2 separate regions of the Homo sapiens genome follow, and region 2 is linked to region 1. The links come from fine-mapping of genetic effects on gene expression. A gene starts in region 1. The other region holds a variant in brackets. All regions are shown on one strand. Distances are from middle to middle.

The links.
Region 2: its variant is fine-mapped to the expression of MKRN1 in whole blood (INTERVAL, PIP 0.94).

What each region holds. Positions count from the first base shown.
Region 1 is chr7:140,478,018-140,480,923 of GRCh38, reverse strand. It overlaps MKRN1 (makorin ring finger protein 1), which reads left to right and starts at 1,419. Exons shown (of 8, transcript NM_013446.4): 1 at 1,419-1,764. The coding sequence starts at 1,580. RefSeq lists enhancers at 72-982, 1,313-2,153 and silencers at 1,289-1,398, 1,689-1,828, 2,109-2,188.
Region 2 is chr7:140,500,476-140,503,381 of GRCh38, reverse strand. No RefSeq gene overlaps it. Among named protein-coding and RNA genes, the nearest start is that of MKRN1, 22 kb to the right of the region's middle. The variant T/C (reference allele first, on the strand shown) is at 1,214.

The DNA.
Region 1 (2,906 bases):
ACCTTAAATACATACAATTTTAAAGACGCATTAAAAAAAAAGCTAGGATATTCCAGACATATTTTGTTACTCATTATGTATTCACTGCAGTGTGAAAAGCACAATGCAAAGGGGTTTTTTTTTTTTTTTTTTTGCTTTTTGTTTTTTTTTTTTGAGATGGAGTCTAGCTTTGTCGCCCAGGCTGCAGTGCAGTGGCTAGAGTGCGGTGGCGCGATCTCGGCTCACTGCAAGCTTCGCCTCCCGGGTTCACTCCATTCTCCTGCCTCAGCCTCGGAGTAGCTGGGACTACAGGCGCCCGCCATCATGACCGGCTAATTTTTTTGTATTTTTTAGTAGAGACGGGGTTTCACCGTGTTAGCCAGGATGGTCTCAATCTCCTGACCTGGTGATCCGCCCCCCTCGGCCTCCCAAAGTGCTGGGATTACAGGCGTGAGCCACCGCGCCCGGCCAGTACAAAGGTTTTTAAACAGATTCTCATTTAACTTTCACAGCCATCTCTGAAGTAGGTACTATTATCTATTACTATTATTATTATTTTGAGACGGAATTTCATTCTGTCGCCCAAGCTGGAGTGCAGTGGCGCGATCTCGGCTCACTGCAACCTCCGCCTCCCGGGTTCAAGGAATTCTCCTGCCTCAGCCTCCTGAGTAACTGGGACTAGCCACTACACCCGGCTAATTTTTGTATTTTTAGTAAAGACGGGGTTTCACCACGTTGGCCAGGCTGATCTCGAACTCATGACCTCAGGTGATTCGCCTACCTCAGCCTCCCAAAGTGCTGGGATTACAGGCGTGAGCCACCGCGCCTGGCCTATTATTATTATTATTGTCGTTTTTACAGAGGAGAAAGCAGGAGCACCAAGAGGTAGGATAATTTGCTAGAAGACCCATGGCTTAGAAAGGGAAGCCTGGAGATAAGGGGACCAGCCCTCTAGAGCATTGCTCAGCCAAAATACTTGGCCAAGATCACATCTCTGATACCAGGAATGAGATAACCTTTATTAAGTGTTTACCATGTACCAGGCACTAAGCTCAGTGATTTCTAAGGACATCATATAATCCTCACAGCAACCATATGTGGGTCTGCTGTCATCCTTATTCGAGAGAGGCTGAAACGGAGGCTCAGATAGAACAAGTACCTAGCTCAAATATTACTAGAGAAATGGGAAAGTGCAGATTCAAACCCAGGTCTTCCGACTGCAAGTCCCTAGTCCCCAGCCCCAGCTCCACTATATCAGCCTCTGCTAGGAAGAAAGCCGCTAACTATGGACTTTCGTCGCCGGGGTTTCGAGCCTAGGACACACCTGTACAGACCCCCGTTTGCCCCGCCCCTTTCCGGAGGAGACGTCCCCTCCACCAATGAGCGGCGCCGTGGGCGGGCCGCGGGCGCGCATGCTCTGGGCCCGCAGTTGAAGTGGCGAGAGCGCTCAGATACGCGACGCGTAGCAGGCGGGGACCGAACGGGTGCCTCAGTGTCCTTCCCCTCCCCTCGCCTGGCCTCGCCGTCCTCTCCCCGCAGCCGGACCGGAACTATGTGATCCCGGAAGTTCCGGGGCCTTTGCTGTGTGGGATAAACAGTAATGGCGGAGGCTGCAACTCCCGGAACAACAGCCACAACATCAGGAGCAGGAGCGGCAGCGGCGACGGCGGCAGCAGCCTCCCCCACCCCGATCCCCACAGTCACCGCCCCGTCCCTGGGGGCGGGCGGAGGGGGCGGCGGCAGCGACGGCAGCGGCGGCGGCTGGACTAAACAGGTCACCTGCAGGTAGGACGTTGCGCGGCGGAGCGCCGGGCGCGGGGAGGGGGCCGCGGGCCAAGCCTGCGGCGCGGGAGGGAGGAGGGCGGCCGGCCTGCGGCTAGAGGCGCGGGAGGGCGGGGACCGGCGTTGTCTCGATCTCTGCAGCCCTCGCGGCCCCCGCTGCCGCCGCGTTCCCCCAGTCACTGCGTCAACCCCCGCTGGGCCGCGGAGCCCTCAGCGCTGTCCGCGGAGGCCTGGCGGTGCGCGATTACTGCGGAGCCGCGGGGCTGCACCGCCGCTTACACTTCCCTGAGCGCTGCCTGAGCTGGCTGCGAGCGCATCGGGGAGAGGTGGGCTGGCTCCTCCCCTGCCGCTGGAAGGATGCCCCCGCCGCTGCCTCCGGCTCCCGGGGCTCGGGAGGTGGTCACTTGAGGCCGGTCTCCCAGCGATCCTCTCCGGGCCTAGACACCCCGCCGAGGGCCCCAGCGAGCTTGCCTGGCTCCCGGCCCTCTCCTCTCTCCGTGCCATCCGTTTGTAACGTCTTTTCACGTCCCTCCGTCCCTCCGCCCCCCATCCTCCGCCCAACTGTGAGAAGAAGCTTTTGTATTTCTTCTTTGTATGTTTGTCGAGGTTGGCGGTGCTGAGCTTTGTCTTAGAAGCAGGCGTTCGGGGGCCGGGGTCGTCTTCTCCACCCGCGGTTTTTTTGAGCTGCAGATTATTACCCTCCCCCAGCGCTATGTTCCTCTTTTGAAATTTACGCATCTTCCGAAGGGAGTGAAAGGGCTCTTCGCTCCCGGAAGAGAGAGAGGTTTGGTTTTGGTTTGATATGCGAGACGAAAATATTAGAAAAATTAAGGGATGGCGGTTGTATGGATGTGTATGGTTGTAAAAAACTACCTAGCTCTACGCAGAAGAGGGCATTTAATTGTACGTTTTTTATTTTCCGGTTTTTAAATAGTGATCAGTAGCGACTGTAAGCTTTTCTTTTTCTATCAGTTGAATAAATCAACTGAAATGCCGGTTTTCACCTGGGTGGTATAATTTATATGCAAGTATGTAAAAATGATTCCTAATTAGAACTTGTAGTATTAAGGGTGAAATTTGAAACCTTCCCAGTCTTTGATGTGATACATTTATCCTGGCGACCTTCGAAGGTCTCTCAGCCTTTG
Region 2 (2,906 bases), 22 kb before region 1:
CGCTTGTAATCCCAGCTACTAGGGAGGCTGAGGCAGGAGAATCGCTTGAACCCAGGAGGCAGAGGTTTCAGTGAACCGAAATCATGTCATTGCGCTCCAGCTTGGGCAACAAGAGCGAAACTCCATCTCATCTCAAAAAAAAAAAAAAAAAAGAAAAAAGAAAGTGATGGCAAAAACCGCAACTACTTTTGTGCCAACCTAATACAACAATTACCATCATCCATCTCCAGAATTTTTTTTATCTTCCAAAATTCTATACCCATTAAACAACCCCCATTCCCCCTTTTTCCAACTCCTGGCAACCACCATTCTACTTTTTGTCTCTATTAATTTGACATATTTTTCTTATTTTATTTTGAGACAGGGTCTCACTGTCACGCATGGAGTGTATTGGTGAGCTCATAGTTTCCTCCAGTGTCAACCTCCTGGGCTCAGGTGATCCTCCCATTTCAGCCTCCCAAGTAGCTGGGACTACAAGTGTGCGCCACCAGACTGGCTAATTTTTTTTTTTTTTTGAGACAAAGTCTCACTCTTGTCCCCCAGGCTGGAGTGCGATGGCGTGATCTCGGCTCGTTGCAATTTCCGCCTCCCGGGTTCAAGCGATTCTCCTGCCTCGGCCCCCCTGCCCGAGTAGCTGGGATTACAGGTGCTTGCCACCAGGCCCGGTTAATTTTTGCATTTTTAGTAGAGACGGGGTTTTACCATGTTGGCCAGGCTGGTCTAGAACTCCTGACCTCAGGTGATCCACCCACCTCAGCCTCCCAAAGTGCTTGGATTACAGGCGTGAGCCACCCCGCCCGGCCTAATTTTTTGTTTTTTGTAGAGACCAAGTCTCACTATGTTGCCCTGGCTGGTCTCGAACTGCTGGGCTCAAACGATTCTCCCACCTCGGCCTCATAAAGTGTTGGAATTACAGGTATGAGCCACCGCACCCAGCCCACATGTGGATTTTAAAGCTGTCCAGAATTTTGATATGGCTTGGCATAGACAGACTGCAAGGCAGGCGCTAAGGTCTCCGATAAATGGTCAGGACTTGTTTACTTGACTCAATTAACAGGGTTGATTTGTTTTTCAGAACAGCTTGTGTGTAGAAACCTTGAGTAGAACTTGGAAACATCCCAGTTAGAAGGGTAGATAACACCAGCAAAACCGGCAGCTGCAGGGCCCAGAGCTGCCTTTCTTCCACAGCTAGAATGTAATCTGACCATGCCAG[T/C]CCTCTGCCTGAAACCACCCAGGGGCTCCCCATGGCCTGCAGGACTAAGTCCAGCCACCAGCTGGCTGCAAGCTGCCCTGGCTGCCTAGGCCTTTATGCTCCAACAATAAATGCACAGGTCGGGCCAGGTGCGGTGGCTCATGCCTGTAATCTCAGCACTTTGGGAAGTTGAGGTGGGCGGATCACCTGAGGTCAAGAGTTCAAGACCAACCTGGCCAACATGGTGAAACCCCATCTCTACTAAAATACAAAAATTAGCCAGGCGTGGTGGTAGGCACCTGTAATCCCAGCTACTCGGGAGGCTGAGGCAGGAGAATCTCTTGAACCCGGGAGGCGGAGGTTGCAATGAGCTGAGATTGAGCTGCACTGCAGCCTGGGTGACAGAGCAAGACTTGGTCTTAAAAAAAAAAAAAAAAAAAAAAAAAGAAGCAGGATGGAGTCAGTTAAGTCAGATCTCTTTCACTGTAATAATTCTGTCAGTTATAATTTTGGCAAAGGTGGTTTTATTGGCAGGGCAAGTGTCCCCTAACATCTCTCTCCTTGGCTTGCAGAGGAGTCTTCTGTGTCCTCACAAGGCCATCCCTTTATGGGTCTTTATGGGTGTCTATGTCCTAATCTCTTCTTCTTCTAAGGAATCATGTTGGATTATGGCCCATCTTAATGAGCTCATTTTAATTCAATTACCTCTTTAAAGACCCTGTCTCCAAATACAGTTACATTCTGAGGTAAAGGGGGTTAGGACTCCACATGAATTTAGGGGTGCGGGATACAATTTAGCCCATAACAGGGTCAAATTTCGTAAGGCTCTGTAGATCATGTTAAGGATTTTAATTTTAACTTTAAAATTAATCAGAAGCTGGACGTGGTGGCTCAAGTCTCTAATCACAACACTTTAGGCGGCTGAGGCAGGAGGATCACTTGAACCCAGAAGTTCAAGACCAACCTGGCCAACATAAAGAGACCTTGTCTCTACCAAAAAAAAAAAAAAAAAAAAATTTGCCAGGCATGGTGGCACATGGCATAGTCCCAGCTGCTCGGGAGGCTGAGGCAAGAGAATTGCTTGAACCCAGGAGACAGAGGTTGCAGTGAGCTGAGATTGCGCCACTGCACTCCAGCCTGGGCAACAGAATGAGACTCCATCTCAAAAAATAAATAAATAAATAAAAATTTAAAAATAAGATGAAAGGAATCTGAAACTATGAAAAAATTTTGCTGGGCGCGGTGGCTCACACGCTGGGCGTGGTGGCTCATTCCTGTAATCCCAGCATTTTGGGAGGACGAGGTGAGGTCAGGAGTTCGAGACCAGCCTGGCCAACATAGTGAAAGCCCATCTCTACTAAAAAAACAAAAATTGGAAGCGCCCAGTGGCTCACTCAGCACTTTGGGAGGCCGAGGTGGGCAGATCACGAGGTCAGGAGTTCAAGATCAGCCTGGTCAATGTGGTGAAACCCTGTCTCTACTAAATACAAAAAAATTAGCTGAGTGTGGTGGTGCACGTCTGTAATCCTAGCTTCTCAGGAGGCTGAGGCAGGAGAATTACTTGAACCCAGGAGGTGGAGCTTGCAGTGAGCTGAGATTGCACCACTGTACTCCAGCCTAGGCAAGGGAGTGAGACTCCATCTCAGAAAAAAAAAAAATTACAAAATTTAGCCGGACGTGGTGGCGGGCACCTGTAGTCCCAACTACTCGGGAG